Linked DNA regions of Homo sapiens: region 2 is linked to region 1. The links come from fine-mapping of genetic effects on plasma protein levels. A gene starts in region 1. The other region holds a variant in brackets. All regions are shown on one strand. Distances are between the middles of the regions. Region 1 holds the start of ITGA11 (integrin subunit alpha 11). Region 2 overlaps ITGA11 (integrin subunit alpha 11).

What was found. PIP is the chance, under the fine-mapping model, that this variant and not a neighbour inherited with it causes the effect. Protein levels are from antibody-based Olink assays in UK Biobank. Linkage for the fine-mapping came from a reference panel and not from the study's own genotypes, which makes the PIPs less certain.
Region 2: its variant is fine-mapped to the plasma level of the ITGA11 protein (UK Biobank, PIP above 0.99). The variant lies in the coding sequence of ITGA11. If it changes the protein, the assay may bind it differently, which can mimic a change of level.

What each region holds. Positions count from the first base shown.
Region 1 is chr15:68,427,332-68,435,660 of GRCh38, reverse strand. It overlaps ITGA11 (integrin subunit alpha 11), which reads left to right and starts at 3,498. Exons shown (of 30, transcript NM_001004439.2): 1 at 3,498-3,646. The coding sequence starts at 3,595. RefSeq lists a silencer at 1,497-1,791 and an enhancer at 4,338-5,097.
Region 2 is chr15:68,360,778-68,369,106 of GRCh38, reverse strand. It overlaps ITGA11 (integrin subunit alpha 11), which reads left to right. Exons shown (of 30, transcript NM_001004439.2): 4 at 4,309-4,400; 5 at 7,403-7,517. Among named protein-coding and RNA genes, the nearest start is that of ITGA11, 67 kb to the left of the region's middle. RefSeq lists an enhancer at 3,119-4,318. The variant G/A (reference allele first, on the strand shown) is at 4,329.

The sequences.
Region 1 (8,329 bases):
AGTCAGAGAAACTCTTCTGCTGCAGGAAAGGAAAATGGAGTGAAGCAAAACTAAGAGAAGACAGAGAGAGAGCAGTAACATTGATTTGAGACCCTTGATCCAGCCACACCTGCAGACAGAACACCTTTGCACTTCCTAGTTACATGACCTTTTACATTCTATTTTCTGCTTCAGTTTGATTGTGTTGAATTTCTGTCACTTGCAAGTGAAAGAATCTTCAACTATACAATCTCTTTACTATAAAAAATAAATACAATTTTGTACAAGATGAGTATTAAATTAGATCATGGATATGAAAGGGATTTCAAAAATAGTAAAACACTATACATAGCACTTGTACATTGTTGGTAGGAATCTAAAATGATGTAGCAACTGTGGAAAATAGTTTGGCAGTTCCTCAAATGATTAAACATAAAATTACTATATGATCAGCAATTCCACTCCTAGGTGTATACCCAAGAGAACTGAAAACATACATTCATACAAAAACTTGTATGAACATTATGCTAACATTATGCTATGTTAATGGATGGTAGAACTGCTACCAGCAAGACCGGCAGCACAAGTGTTCATAGCCACATTATTCACAATAACCTAAAGTGGAAACACCTAAATAAGCCTCACCTGATGAATGGATAAACAAAAGGGGGTAGATCCATACAATGGAATGTTACTTGGCAATAAAAAGGAATGAAATACTGATACATGTTGCAACATGGATGAACCTTGGAAACATCATGCTAAGGGAAAGAAGCCAGACTCAAAAGGTCACGTATTATATGATTTCATTTATATGCAACGTCCAGAATAGGCAAATCCATAGAAATAGATTTGTGGTTGCCAGGGACTGGTGGGAAGGAATGGGGAGTGACTGCTCATGGTTACAGGGCTTCTTTTTGGGGTGATAAAAATATTGTGAAATTAGTGAGGATGATTTTACAATCTTGTGAATATACTAACAACTACTGGATTCTATGGCACAGTTTATGGCATGTGAATAAATAAATCAGTTAAAACACTGTGTACATGTAAAGAGTTATTATTATTATTCAACAGAAATCACAGCTTTCATAAAGCCCTTCACCAAATTCTCTGCAGTTCTCCAGCCTTAGAGTCTGGATTGTGCACTTGTCACTCATATGCTGCTGCCTTGGGTGTGATTTAAATAATGTTTAATAGTGATGAAATAATAAATGGTTTTAAATAGATTAATAAATAACAGATTATGATTAAATAAATACATGGTTATGTCTTGTCTCCTCAGCTCCATCACCAGCTGCCCTAGTGTGGGGTTCTCCTTCCGTGTGTCCTACAGAGCACAGGGGCACAGTAGGCACTCTGTAGGATCTGTTGAAAGAACAAATGAGGGCACACCTCTCCCCTCACCCTCCCACATTACACAAAAGCACACAGAGTGATCCTCAGGACCCCCATTCCCCAGGCACCTGTGAGGACGGTGAAGGTGAATGAATGGTAGAATTGTTACCAGCGAGACCAGCAGCAGCGCAGCTAGGACAGCCACTACAGTGCGCCCCTTCAGCAAGCAGCATGCAGACTCTGAGCACAAGCTGCAGACCACCCACACGTCAGAGGTGCCTGGGGCACCCACCAGCATGCCCTGATCCTTGGGGAATTTGCATTCTTTGCACGTGCTCCAGGTCGTTCTGATGCACCTGGAGATTTGTGCAAGGCAGGAATGTGGGCTGCAGCCCATTCCCTAGCTGTAGGGGTGTTCTACATTCAACTCAGCTGGCTTAAACTCAACTCAGTGAAGAGGACTCACTGTCGTATAACTGATAAGTCCCAAGGGGAGTGGGGTTAAGGGGTGGCTTCATTCAGGAGTTCAACAAGATCCTCCATTCTGTCATCCAGTGTCCACCTCATCTCAAGGCCAGATCCTCCTTCCCTACCCTGACCCTGTCAACTTCTGAGCCTACAAAGTTCCTTGTCCCAGGCTGGGAGAGGAGGCAGGAGTGGGAGAGGTGAGGAGAGAGAGTTAGTTCATTTGTTTGTTTGTTCTAGGGGCTCTTTTAGAAAGGCAAGAAAGCTTGCTTCCCAAAAAAACTTTTTCTTTTGTCATATTGCCCTTTCTGAAACGATGGGCTGGGAAGGGCAACATACTGATTCATTTCAGCCTGAACCGCATGCCTCCTTACACACACACACACACACACACACACACCAGGGACGGAATCACCTTCCCCGAGTCTGTGGCTGAATGGGTGAGGTGAAGATGAAGTAAAACCCAGATAGCCAACCGAAAGATAGTGAGGTTGGGAGACGAGCACAAGCCCACTTCACTTATGTGAACCTGGGTCTTCTCAAACTCCAGCTCATCTTCAGGGGCCCTGACTGAACATCACCTCCTCTGGGAAGCCCTTCCAATACCTCCCAGATAGAAAACTCTATCCTTTGTGCACCCACACACCACCTGTACTCACCCATCCATCCACCCGCCCACCTACTTTGTTCCTGGGTGTTAGGGGCTGAGTACTCCATTGTGAACCAGAGATTTCTACCCTGATGGTGTTTTCAGTCTGCACAGGAGAGAAAAGTTAAATGATCACACCAATTGATGCCTTGCTTCTCTACTAAGCACAATGAAGAGAAATGAGGGAGAGCGGGCTGGGGAATATCAGCATGTGTCTGGGACTCAACCTGGTGGGGACGGGAAGAGGGGGTGAAGGAAGCCTTTCCTGAGAAAGTGGGGGAAGGGCGCTCTGCTGTGGCTTTCCCTGCATCTTGGCCTTCCTACCCTCTGCCTCGGCTTCCTCCATTGCTGGAAAAGCCTCCACAAGCGCGGTGGAGGTCCGGGGCCTGGATTTAAAGCTCTTGAGATAAATGTGCATTGAATTTAACTACCAGTGATTAGAAGAGGGAAAGAAGGTGGCAGGGTTACAAAGAAGAGCTTCACGTTAGGTTAAGAGGGGGTGCACGGTGTCCCTGGGTGCTTTGGAATGCCTCAGGTGTGGAGGCTCAGGGAGTGGCAGTGGAGGCGAATCTGCATGTATTCCAGGGTCAGAAGAAACACTAGCCTCTACAATTCAAGCCGCAGGGTGCAGGGAGACACGGGGATGTCTTAGAATGGACCTTTGAGGGACATCCACTCACTTGGCCAAGGGAGACCTGCGTTCCAGCAGGTGTTCCTGAGCCAGCTTGGGTACCCTCTGAGTTTTGTGAATCTCTTTTCACTGGGAAATGGGAATAAAAACCACTTTTCCTGAACAGAATCTGACTGAGGCGGTGCGGTGCTACACTGGTGAGGGGGTTCCCAGGAGCGGTTCTCTGGAGTTTTCTCCAGAGGCTGACGTGGGGTTGGCGGAGAAGGAGCGCTGCACAGGCGCGTCGAGGCAGCGCGCCGCCTGCCCAGGTGGCAGAGCGGCCGAGACTGGCCCAGAGCCCGAGCCGGAGTGGTGTCCGGCGCCCCTCCCCTCCGCTCGAGCCCTCCCACTTCCTCTGAATGAGCCGCAGCTGTCAGGGAGCCCGGCGCCCCGCGCAGTGCAGGCTGCAGGCGCCGCGCCGAGGAGGCTGCCGCTCTGGCTTGCCGCCCCCCGCCGCCGCTGCACACCGGACCCAGCCGCCGTGCCGCGGGCCATGGACCTGCCCAGGGGCCTGGTGGTGGCCTGGGCGCTCAGCCTGTGGCCAGGTAGGTGCCCACCCTCTGCCTCCCCTTGCCTCTCGGAGTCCCTCCCTGGGCCCTCGGGGCTTGGATCCAGCGGCCAGGATCGGGACGCGACCCTCCTCCCAGGGTCAGACCTCAGCTGCTCTTGGGGACGTGGGTCCCCCAGGGACTGGCCCCAGTCTAGCGGTTCAGTCAAGTTTCGCTAAAGAGGGAGGTGCGAAGGCTATTGAAAGCCGGGACTCTTTGGTGTGTTTGGGAAGAGTTGAAGAGGCTTGAGTTGAAAAGCTCCCAGATCTGGTGGCCCTCCTGGGCGCCTTAGGTGCCTCCAAGGCCCATGCCGGGGTTCCCGCACGGCTGCCAGGGGCACTCGGGTGTCCCGGGAGCGCCGAGGGCGCACGGCCCCGGCTGGGGAAGGGAATCAGCGCCAAGAGAGTGTGCCCTGGCTGCCCTCCTGCCTGGCTCCGGGGAAGCATCTCAAAGTTTGGAGAGCCGGGCGCGGCGGCCCCGGAGGGCTGAAGGGTGGGGGTGAGGGCTGCGCAGAGTGCCTCCGGCCAAAGACAGAGCAAAGCCCCGGGGCGATGGCCGGTAGGCGGGGGCTAGCTCTCGTCTGCCCGGCCAGCAGCGGCGGGACACAGTCGCGCAGCGCAGGACCCCCGAAACGTTACCTGACACCCGGGGTAGGGACCCGGCATTGCCTCCCAACCCGCGCTCGGAATTATGCAATTATTCAATAATCTGGGGAAAGCCGCCGTCGCCTAGACGCGCGCCGCCGCCTAATGCACTCCAGGTGTCGGGGCGCGGCAGGAACCTCCGGCCCGAGGGGCGCGCGGCTGGGAGCGGGAAGCCAGCCCTGAGCTCTCCGCCCTAGGGTACCCTGGCCCCGGCCGTCCCACACCGGGCTCCCCGGCTCCACCCTCCACGCGGGGCGGCTGCCAGTGATGCTGTTCTGCGGAAGACGGCCAAGTGCTCCGGCAAGGGCCAGCGCCTCGGTTACTGGCCGGGTGTGGGCGCTCAACCTTGCCTCCCCTTCTGCGTGGGCTCCAGGCCCGAGCTGGGGCCAGTAGTGGGGGTCAGATGCGGTGGTAGTGGGAGAGGTGCCCTCAGGGAGCTCAGGTGGAGACCCCTATCCCGCAGCCGCTTGCCCCAGTCCCCGGGTACCACGCGAAGCAAGTCCACCCTCCTGTCGGCCTACAGAGGAGCTTCTCAGAGGGCCCATGGTTGAAAGGGCCTCTGGCTAGTGGAATCCTAGAGTCACAGTTTAAAACAATCATTGATACATTGAGTTGTGGGGGCTTGGAAGGGAGAGCAGGGGAAGAACTGCCACCAGGCCAATATGCAACTAGAAGCCAGCTGCGGGAGGAGGCCAAGCCCATTTAGGTGTGTTTAGACAGGAGGGGAGAATCTTCTCCAGGAACTGTCCTCATATCACTAGGAGATCCAGCCACAAGAAAAGAGACGCACTCCTGTGTGACTCCAGATAGGTGGCTGCATCAGAACCTTGGGAAGGAGTGGCTGCCTTAGGGGCTAGGGACAGCCTGGACCTCAGGAAGCTAAGAGCAATGGCTTTGGAATCAGACCTGGCTTCCACTTCTGGCTCTGCACCCTGCTAGCTGTTCAATCTTGGACTGGTTATGCGACCTTTCCAACAGGTTTCCTTATGTGAAGAATGGAGACACAAATTCCGTGTCCTGTAAAGTTGTCAGGATGCACTAAGGCACTGTAAGAAAGGCCCTTAACACAGGGCTGGGTGCACAGTAGGCTTTAATCAATGGTTGTTAATGTTGTTGCTACTCAAGGAGGAGGGGGCAGAGAATGACATTAAAGGACCTCTGAAGACACAGGATTTGTGACTCAGAGCTCCGCTTATATGGCGAAAACCACTCCTGAGTTATGTCTGGTCAGTTGCATTCTTGAAATATGGGATTCATTAAACATATCAATCAATGTTGGAACAATGACATCTGCTTGCAAGGAGCTGGGGGTGGGGCCCTAGCGTGTGTGCAATCTGGGTCCTGCCTGTAACTGAGAATAAGCCAAGGCCAGGGAAAGCTAAACAGAGGCACCAGGGAGTGAATGGCTTGGGGAAACCAAGGGCTGGGTGTTCAAACAAGAGAAGTTCAATTTCAGCCAGATAAGCAAGGAAGGCTTCCTGGAGGAGGAGATATCATTTGAACTGGCCCTGGAAAAGTGTGTAGAGTGTGCATGGGCCTGAAAGTGGGAATGTTCATATTTTGGAGTATTATTTTCTGAGACTAGTTAAAGAAGATGATGAATATTTTAAAACCACTCTGGTCAGTGTGGACTTTGAAGACTAGAAGGGTCTCAGGGATCATTGGGTTCACTCCTCAGGCTCCAGGACAGGACTGATGTTGATACCTCATCCATGCATCACATGAATTCAATGTGAGGATTACCAGGAAGCTTGTCTACTGGTGATGGCAGTTTGGCTGGGCAGGGAACCTGTCAGAGGCCAAGTTGAGGGTGAGACCTCAGAGCATCTACTCTCCCAGAGCTCCAGCTGCAGGCTGGACAGCGTGATGGGGTAGACAAAACTAACAGGAAAGCCTAAAAAAAAAGTAATCAAGTCCAAAGAGAGAGATCCATTGACCAGAGCTTTACAGTCATAACCTATCTGTAGGAAGGGTGATGATTCTTAGAAGCATAATCTTTGCTGAGCACCTGTTATCTGCCAGGCCCCATAAAGACACAAAGTGAGATCAGACACAGCGTAAGGGTGGAGGCCCTGGAGTTTCACTGCCTGGGATTGGCCTAGCCCCTGCCGGTTAGGGCTCTGTGCTCTTGGCAAGTTACTCCATGGCTCTGTGCCTCAGTTTCCTCACCTACAAAGTGGGGGTAATAATAGAACTTAGAGTTATCACAAAGATTAATGCTTAGAAAGTGCCAGGCATGTATTAAGCACTCAAGGAGGTTGTCTTCTCCAACATCATCAGCAGCAGCAGTAGCACTCAAGATATTGACTATTCAGGATCTAAGGACACAGAGATATAACTTTCAAACTCAAGTTCTCAAGAGAAGTTTAGAGGAAGTACATTGAAGAATCAGAGGAGACATACATGCCAGGGCCCCAAATGAGTGAAGACTTTCCTAGTCCCTCCCGCAAAGCCCTGGCCCAAACTCTTGATCATAATAAGAACTCAGGGTTGTTGTTTTGTTTGTTTGTTTACCATCGGGGCTGTCTTGAAGTCAGTATGCTCTTGATGTGGGTGTATTGTGGTGTGGAAAAGGAGAAGGCCCATACCATGCAACATGGCCCTTGTGGGTAGGGGTCCTACCCAACAGAAAGCAACCTGTGGAAAAGCACAGTGCTAGACACCACAGGTGTACAAAGGCTCCAGAGGTCCAAGACTTGCTCCCAGCCTCTCCTTCCCAGTGGAGAGCAGGGAAGAAGGGAAAGTTTGTCACTTTGCCACCCCATTGCCCACTTTGACAGCCAAGCCCCTCAGCTGCCATTAGCTGAGGAGCTTCTGGATCTTTCCATATCACAAGCAGACCCTGGAGTCTCACTCTTTTTCTGCTTACTCACCATGACCCCATCTCTACCCCACAGTGGACCCCCAGAGAGGGGATGTCTATCTCCATGCTCTTCCCACCATTCCCAGCCCATCCACACAGGGCTGTGAGCCCTGGAAGAACTCAGACAGTATCTTACCTCTCAACCTTGCCCTCTCTGAACCTCTTTTTCCACCCTCCTGTAGTGGGGAGCTCTTCCTTCTTCTAACAGCAGGGACCTTCCCTTGCATTCTCCCTCCCTTCCACCAACACCCCCAGCTCCTATCACTTAGGATAAAAATATGTTCTAAGCTGAGCTGGCTTTGCTCTTGCTATGCAGAAGGGAATTTGGGGAATTTTAAAAGCCCCTGTTTCTTCTCCACAATGCCTGACTTTGGGTGTTATTGTCTCACCATGGGCTTCCAGAGCTTACTTTGGGGGTCAAAGTCGAACATTGTTCTAGGATCCATCATAACCCTCCCCAGGCAGTGATGGGCTCTGGCTGACTCAGGGAAGGTCAGCTACAAAATGAGCCTTAAAAATCCTCTAATATGGTTCAAAAATGGTATCTCTGCTGATCCTCATCACTGAAGTCCCCTTCCAGGCCCACCCACTCCCCACCAACTGTATGTAGGCTACCACCAAGGATTCATAGCCATTTGGAACTTTTCCCTAAGCAGCTGTGAGCTCCAAAGACACCCACACATCTTCAGCATGGAGTGCTTTCTATAGGAGCTGTGGTCCAAGGGCGACCCTCCACAACCCCATCATGCAGATCCTAACTGTGTGAATTCTTTGTCAAATGCCCATTAAGTTTGTTACCACTGACAGGAGAAGGAGAGGAGGAGACTGGTGCTGGTCATCTTGTAAATCTAAAATAAGTGAGCTGCAAAAAAATTCCATGGAGAGTTTTCATACTATATACTTAAGATCTGAGTCACACGACGTGTGAAATCCCACCTGGAGGAAAAAGTCAGTGAGGCCAAACCCCCTCCCTGCTGCCTCTCACTTCCTCCTTCACTGAAGCACTCACCAAGCAGCAGAAATAATTGGCATGTGCATGGGCTTAGGACCTAGACTGCCCGGATGCAAATCCTTTCTACCTGGGTGACTCTGGGATAAGCCCCCAGGCCTCAGTTTTCTCAACTGTAAAATGGGCAAAATAACAACTTCATAGGACAACAATCAGGTTAAATG
Region 2 (8,329 bases), 67 kb after region 1:
TCCATGGTCACACTGACTCCTTCCTGCTACTCCATGAGATGACCCAGCTGATATCACTGCCCCCACTTTACACATGAGGAAGCTGAGGCCAGGGAGAGGAGGCAACTTTTCCACAGTCACACAGCTTGCCAGGGGCTCACCAGGAATCAACCCAGGCCCTAGCTGTCCCAGGCCATTCCTCTTTCTGACTCAGCCACTGCCCTTCAACTCAAAGTTTTCTCTCCCAGGAGAAAAAAAAAAAAAAAAGGACTTCCTGTCTTTTTCCTGATTTTGAAATAATAACAACAATAGCTAACATTCAGATATCTTCGATAATGTTCACCATGTGTGAGGCACATTTGGACTCATTTAATCCTCACAACACCCATATGGGATTTAACCATTTAACAGATAGGAAATGACAGCATACAGAGGTGAGGGGACCTGCCCGGGGTCACTCAGCTCACAAGGAGCAGGGCTTGGCGTCCAGTTCATGCAGGCTATGGCCTCCCTTTAACCACCATGCAGCACTGCCCTTCGGAAATGCAAGCTTTTCCTCGCCAAAGAGCTTTCAGGCATATTCTGGAACAGGGAGATGCTGTGAACAGCCCCCAGCCTCCGAAGCCCTCCTAAAATCTACTCGTGTGTGTTTGCATGCATGTGTGTATCTGCTTATGTGTGTGCAAATGTGTATCCACTAAGCACACACACCAGTCCACTAAAGTGCTCCCACTTGTCCTAAAGGTCAGACAGCAGCTGGGTCATTGCTTGCTCTGCTCTCAGAAGGGAGAAAAAGTTCCATTTTGGCTGACAAGCTGCAATTCTAGGCTTTGCCCTGGAGGACTGGACTTCCCTAGGGCCAGGACCCTGGGCCTCCCTCCTTCGAGGAGCGGGGTCTCCACCCCAGAGCAGTGGGGTGGGTCTCCCTGGGAGATGGGGGATGGGAAGGGCAGCAGGGTCTCACTGGGCGGGAATGGCAGAGGTTCAAGAGATAAGCTGATGGATGAAAAGGTCAGCATCCAAAAGAAAGCCCAAAGAACTCCCCAGGGCAGCCAGCTGTCTGTCACATGGTCCCGGAGGCTCCCGCTGTCCACATCTGCATCAGCACCATGGGTGGGAAGTTCAAAACCCAGCATAGCCGGGGCCCAAACTTCAGTGAGGAAATCGTCTAAGGGAAGAGGGTGCCTGGTTGGTGGCATATGGTTCCAGGTCATCAGCACCCTGAGAACACAGGCTTCTGAAACTGGCCAACCTGGAGTCCCCTTCCAGCTGTACAAATTCTTTGCTGTGTGTCCATGCGGAGTTCACATCCTCTCTCTGAGCCTCAGTTTACTCGTGTGTAAAGCAAGGAGGCTGGACTCGACAACCCTTAGGATCCATTCCAGGTCTAATCTGTTTCCGAACCTTTAATGCGCACCTAGAGTGTACCAAACACTGTACTATTTATTGGGGATATGGTGGGGAACAAGAGGCCAAGGAAGGGGACAGTAATCGGGTAGGCAAATTAAGAAGCAGGATAGTTTTAGGCAGGGATCAATGCTGTGCAATAAACCAGGTGCTGTAATAAGAGTGGCTAGGGGGTGATGGAAGTGGAGAGGGATTTCTACCATAGAAGGTGATCAGGGAAGGCTTCTCTGAGCAGGTAGTTTTTGAGAAGGTTACAGGTGGGGGCGGAGCACTCCAGACAAAGGAGGAGCAAGTGCAAACGCCCTAAGGTAGGAACAAGTCTGCCCTGTTGGAGAAGATAAAGAAAGGCCATGTGGTTGGGACAGAGGCAATGAGGTTGGGGTGTGGTGGAAGAGTGGGCAGTCTTCTCAGGGCTTCAGCCACCAAGAGAAGCTCCTGGTCCAGGCAGGGACGTGGATTCGTGAACCAATCTTTTTTTTTCTCTGTTGCAATGTGGACCCCATTTCTCTCCAGAGGGAGGAGGAGACATAAAGCCATGAGACCCTGGAAAGCATTTCTGAGCTGGGGCACAAGCCTAGGAGGCAGTGGGTAGCAAAGTGAGTTGGGATGGAGGAAAATTACTCTTCATTTGAGGTGTGGTTCTCTCTCTCCCACTGAGAAGAAAATGCATGGCAGAAAGAACATCTGTCAGTTTTGCCCCACAGTGGAAAATGCAAGGCTGGGAAACCTGAGTCCTGGGTTTTCCTACGGCCGTTCCAGGCACTGGGCAGCACGATGCCAGGAATGTTCTTTCCTTTTTCTCCAGGGAAGGCTAAGTGGGTGTCAGCCATTCACACCTCTGTGGGAAAGACTCTACCACTGGCACTGTCCTTCCAACACCTGGATAAAGTCAGGGTTTTCAATGAGGGGCAGGGGCTGGGGGAGGTGATGTGATTCTCAAAGCCAGGGCCTGTGTAGGGAGATATCTGGGCCCGGGACCCTCACCCAGACCTGCTGAGGAAGGCGTGAGTCTCTCCCGCTCACAGAGGGGTTGGGCAAAGACTTGAACCTGAGTCTGTCTAACTCCAACACAGGGATTTTTCCTCCCCTGCCCCTCTGTCTCAGCCAGCTGCACAGTTTCACTACAAACATCAGTCCCAGGGGAGAGGGAGGAAGGAGAGGGGCAGGGTGGTGAGGTCTGCGTTCCTTAAATAAACGGAGGGCAGAATTCTAGCCAGAAGGGGGCGAGGGTTACCCAGCCCAGTGGAGCATGGAGCCGCCCCTCTAGTTCCCACTGCCACCGTGATGCCATCAGATGGGAGAAAACACAGAACTCGGGATGAAACGTCACACGGTCTGGGCTAAAGATCTTGCTCTTTAATTTCCCAGCAGGTAACCTTGTGGCAGTCACTAACCCTCTCTACACCTCAATGTTCTCATCTGTAAAATGGAAATGATGACCCCTGGGTCTCCCAGGACCGTGAGGGGTCCTGAAAGGGCAGGTGTGCGCGGTGCTTTGTAGATGATAAGGCATCTCAGAAACACCGGGGCTTTACTGTTATTTTCTCTCCAGCTTGTTTGGGCAGACAAAAGAGAAATCGAGCCCAGTCATTCTTAGCACAGCCAAGAAGGGCAGATTTCAAAAGGAGCCTTGCTTCAAACTGAGGAAAACCAAAAAGGAAAAAACAACAAACACAGCTGCCCCTACCCTCCAGTCCACAAAACAGTCTGTGTCTGACAAGCTGGGCTCTGCCAGCGGCCCACCCCCAGACTCCTGCACCAGCTGGCCTTCCTGACCTGTGTGCCCTGGGAGCCAGGCCGACTCTTCACACTTCCAGTCACCGACACAGTGCAATGCAACCCATTCTTGCTCAAGGCCTCCTTAGAAATTATTCCTCCCATTGCTCGAACCTGGGAGTTGGAGATTGCAGTGAGCCACGATGGTGCCACTCCACTCTAGCCTGGGTGACACAGTGAGACCCTGCCTCAAAAAAAAGAAAAGAAAAGGGAGGGGAGGGAAGGGAAAATTAAAAAAAAAGAAAAGAGAAAAGAAAAGAAATTACTCCTTCCCCAGGCAGGGAAGCCACCCAGAGCTGTCCACACTGCATATTAGGGCTTGCACACTCTAGCTCCCCAGCCTCTCCCACTCCCTCTTCCTGTACACGTGCACACACACACACACACACACACACACCCCAACACACTTCTGGGGAATTCAGACTCACTTCCTTTCCTTCGGTGGCCTCCAGGATGATCTGGTAAAACCTTAAGCGATGCAATTTTTTTATGATTCTAATCTGCCGCAGAGCTGACCCTCTCCCTATTCCCAGCAGGCTGATAACCCAGCTCCTAAGCACCTCTCTTGGCAGCCTCCTTCAGAATGGCATTCCTGGGCAAGGCCTGGCAGCTCTGGAAGGCTCTCGTTGAGTTGGCTCTGTTACCCATGAGAGGAAACTCTCAGCTGTCACATGTTGATTGTTCAGATGAGCAGAGAAGTGGGCACAGAAAGAGTTGGGCACAGGACTGGTTAAGTGTGGATGGGGGTCAACTTGGAAGAAAGCGTAGCGGGGATACTGCACAAAGGAAGCCAGCCCAGGTGGGATGCCATGGCATGCTTGGGGGCACACGGGGAAGTGGGGCTCCAGTCGGATGGCTGGAGGAGGAAAAGCTGTGGGCTAGGAGATAGAAGGCTCGGTGAGTGCTCACTGTGTGACCTTGGGCAGGTTGTTTGGCCTCTCTGAGACTCGGTTTTCTCATCTCACAGGCAGTTGTGAGGATGTCCTGAGAGTACGTCTGGGGAAGGCCTTTGTAAACCCTGAGAGCCAGAGGTCCCCAGGGTCAGGGAGAATCGGGGAGGCACCTCGGGTGACCAGACCAGCAGCAGGCTCTGGGCAGAGGGCGGGCAGGAGGGGGCTGCAAGCTGAACTTCTCCCCCAACCCCAGGAAGGGTCACCCTGTCCAAC[G/A]TGTCCGAGCGGAAAGACAACATGCGCCTCGGCCTTAGTCTCGCCACCAACCCCAAGGACAACAGCTTCCTGGTAAGAGCCACCTGCCACTGCTTGGGGTCAGGAGAGGCAGGGGTGGGGGTGGGGAGGGGTGGAGCGTCTCCTTACACACCCTCATGTCCATCCTGTACACCCACTCTCCCCCACTCCAACCACCAAGCTGCCTGGCCCTGTGCATTCCAGGAAGCAGCTCCCCCGCCAGCTCCCTGCTTATGCCATTCCGGGTGGCAGGGCCCTGGGTGTTTTGGCAGGGACAGTCCAGGCAGAAGAAACAATTGAGCCCTTTTGTGTGCATATCCCGAAGGAGGGAGGAACAGCCAGAAAGGGGACAAGAATAAATGTAGATAGCCAACAAGTCTGGTGGGGGACTGTCCCTTTCCTTGGGGAGCTAGTTGTCTGGGCTGGAGGTCAAATCTCTGCTCTAGGCTTGAAAAAAGAAGCAGGCTGCACCACACACCCAAAGAAGACTTGGAAGGGATGCCATAAATGAGTAAACACAGACTACCACAGCCGAGGGAAGGGCTACAGAGTGACAAGCCGTCTCAACTATCCAGGATTAGATGAAGAAGGCTGGAGGAGGTTTCTGTTTTGTTTTTAAAGAAGAGACAGGCCTTCGCAAGGAAGAAAAGGGCATGTCTGGGTTGAGGTGGTAGAAACATTCATTCATTTAAACAATGATGTTTCTGAGCACTTACCATAGTATGTGCTAAGCCCAGTGCTGGGCACCGGGATTCAGCAATGAATAGAGACCCTGTCCTGCTGGAGCTTACACTGTGGTGGAAAGAGAGGCGACAAGCAAACGAGTAATGTCTAATAGGACTTTGGGGGACAGACAGCAGCAGGCTCTGCTTACAGGTCTCTGTTCTGTGCCCAGGTGAGCACATATGGACTCTGCACATGGTAGTGAGTGTGGGCGGCACAATGGATTGGCACTGCCTGCTCCTTGCCACCACCTTGGAGTGAGCTGCGTTGAGTATGGGCGATGCTTGGGGTTCAAACAGGATCCTTCTGAGACTGATGGTTCCTAGAAACAGTTGCAGGAGAGGACTTCAGAGAAAATTTACCCCAGAAAGCCCAGTACAAATTACTGCCCATTTTTAGATGGGGTGCTTGTGTCAGTCTTTGTTCTGGTCTATTTCTGCTGACAAATGAGACATCTGGGGCATGAATCACAAGACAAATTAGATAAGACAAATAAGACATAAAGATAAGACGATGACTGGGATGCAAGGGGACTTGAGTGCATAGTGGCCCTGCCAGGGAAAGTCATGAGGTGCCTTGATGTATATTCAGCCCACAGCCCTTTATTAGCCATAACCAGAGGCAAAGCAGGACCCCTGGCCCTATCCACACACATATCCGTCAGGGGCTTTGTCTCTACTCCCTTTTCCCTCTCAGGCTCCTTATCACATTTCTTCTTCACAAGGTGGTATGAAGGTCTGAGAGGAATGGTGTGATATATTCTCTGGGGCCTCTGTGAGTAGGTTAATCCTTGGTTTATAGATAGTCACCTGTTCATTGATTCACTCATCTGTCCATTCCCCTCTCAACAATTCATTCCTCCATTCATCTATCCAACCACCCATGCATTCATCTACCCATCTGTCTATACATCGATCCACCATCAATCTCCCATGTAATCATCCATCTTTCCATTTATTCCTTCCTGCATCCATCCATCAACCTCCATCATCTATCATTCATCCACCCATCAATTCATCATCCATCCATCCATCAACCATCCATCATCCATCTGTCATTCATCCACTTATTCATCCATCATCCATTCATCCATCATCCATTCATCCATCATCCATCCACCCATTCATCCATCAACCATCTATCATCCATCCATTATCATTCATCCACCCATTCATACATGGATCATCTATCCATCCATCATCCATCCACTAATTCATCCATCATCTATCCAGCCATCATTCATTCACCCATTCATTCATCATCCATTCATCCATCATCTGTCCACTATCCATCATCCATCCATTATCCATTCATCTATCTGTCCATCCATTCACATCTATCCATCATCCTTCCATCCATCTTCCATCCATTTATCCATCCATCCATTCATCATCCATCTATACATCATTCATCCATCCATCTATACATCATTCATCCATCCATCTACCACCCACTTATCCATCCATCTATCATCTGTCTATCCATCCACTTATCCATCCATCCATCTATCCATTCTTTATTCCCCTCTGTCCCCTGCCACTTCCAAACATTATGTACAGCAGCTTCAACAAAGTACACAGATAAAACATAACCTTTAAGATCTGAGCTTAAAAAGAAAGTAATTAAAGAAAGGGATCGGAAGTAGAATAATTACTCCCCTAAACCAAAGGAAATTACAGCACAAAATTTAGCTCTGGGTTTCCTGATAGCAGGATAACAATGGAAGCATGGAGCTGAGCTTTCATTTTTAATGACAATGACTCTGAGAAGAACCCTTCACTCAGTCCTTCAATGGGGACTGACATCAGTGTTTTTGGTAGAACATTTCACAGAAAGAATACAGACATTCTTATCTTCCCCTGCCCCAGTATGAGCCATGGCATGTTTTTGGGACCCAGTCCTAGAAGTTTGCCCAGTAAGGCCCTTCAGGCGACCTCTCAGACAGAGGAGTTATTCTAGTGACCCTTGAAGTGTTCACACCCGTGGGTGAAAAGGCTTCCCCAGATCCCGTATGGTGGGTGGGTGAGTGGGGTGGGCAGGTAGGGTGAAGAAGTATCATATTCCTAAATGATGAGATGGAGAACAGGGCCTTGAAAAAACAATGAAAGAGACTCCAAGATCAGTTTTTCTCCATTAGACCTGAAACCAAAGGAACTAGTACACATTGCAGCAAGAGAGAGTTCAGTTAGACCCAAAGAAGATCCCTCACCCCCTCACCCCTCAGATAGAAGTCTGTCTTGGGTCGTGGAGGATGGGAGTGGGCCTCAGGCCATTGGACCTCGATCCTCTCTGAGGTCCCCTCACTGACTGGGGATCTGCACTGCCCTCCCCAGGCCTGCAGCCCCCTCTGGTCTCATGAGTGTGGGAGCTCCTACTACACCACAGGGATGTGTTCAAGAGTCAACTCCAACTTCAGGTTCTCCAAGACCGTGGCCCCAGCTCTCCAAAGTAAGTGGCTTCAAATCTGCAACCTCAAGCTGAGCAGTGGACAGTCCAGAGAGACTTGGGCCCTGAGCACAACAACCTGTGGCTAGAAAGCAGTATTTGGACTCTAGCACTGTCCTGCCCCAGCTCTCCGGATGACCTGGAATGTATCACTCCACTCTCTGGGCCTCTGTGGGAGTCATAATCCTGGCCTCCCTCTCCCAAGTGTGATGGTGGAGAGCAAATGAGCTAAGGTTTCAAAGACAATCCCAGCCTCAAGGGAGGCTCACTGCAGAAACCCTGGGTATATAGGAGGTTACCTGGCAAGCACATGCAGCAGACAAGCTGTGCACTGCACAATTCTGGGGGAATTGTTCACTTAGACATATGAATGGCGCCCCCTGATGTTGTGCAATGCAGTAGCCTTGTAGATGAAGGAACAGGGAGAACAGAAATCTCCTTGGTAGTAGTTCCACCAAATCAGTGCTCCTGGACAGCAGGGAGTTCTGTCCAGCTCGTCCAGAGCCTCATGGAACGTAAAACCTCTTGCTCATTGCCCACCTGCGAAGAAAACCTGGGGAATTACTGCTCAGACCCTGCCTCCCACAAGCCCAGACTTCTTGGCTCTGAGCCTCACTATTTCCTCTGCACTAAATACCATCACCCAAGCAGCTGCTGCCCGTTTTATGGAGGGTTCGGGAATTGGCACCTCTGGCTTGCCTGCAGCCGCCCTCCAGACAACAAGGCCGAGTCAGATGGGGCTGGGGAAGGGAGGAGGAGGAAGCATCAGTCCAGCAGGGGCAGAAAGGTCGTCTTTCTGGGGGATAATGAGACAT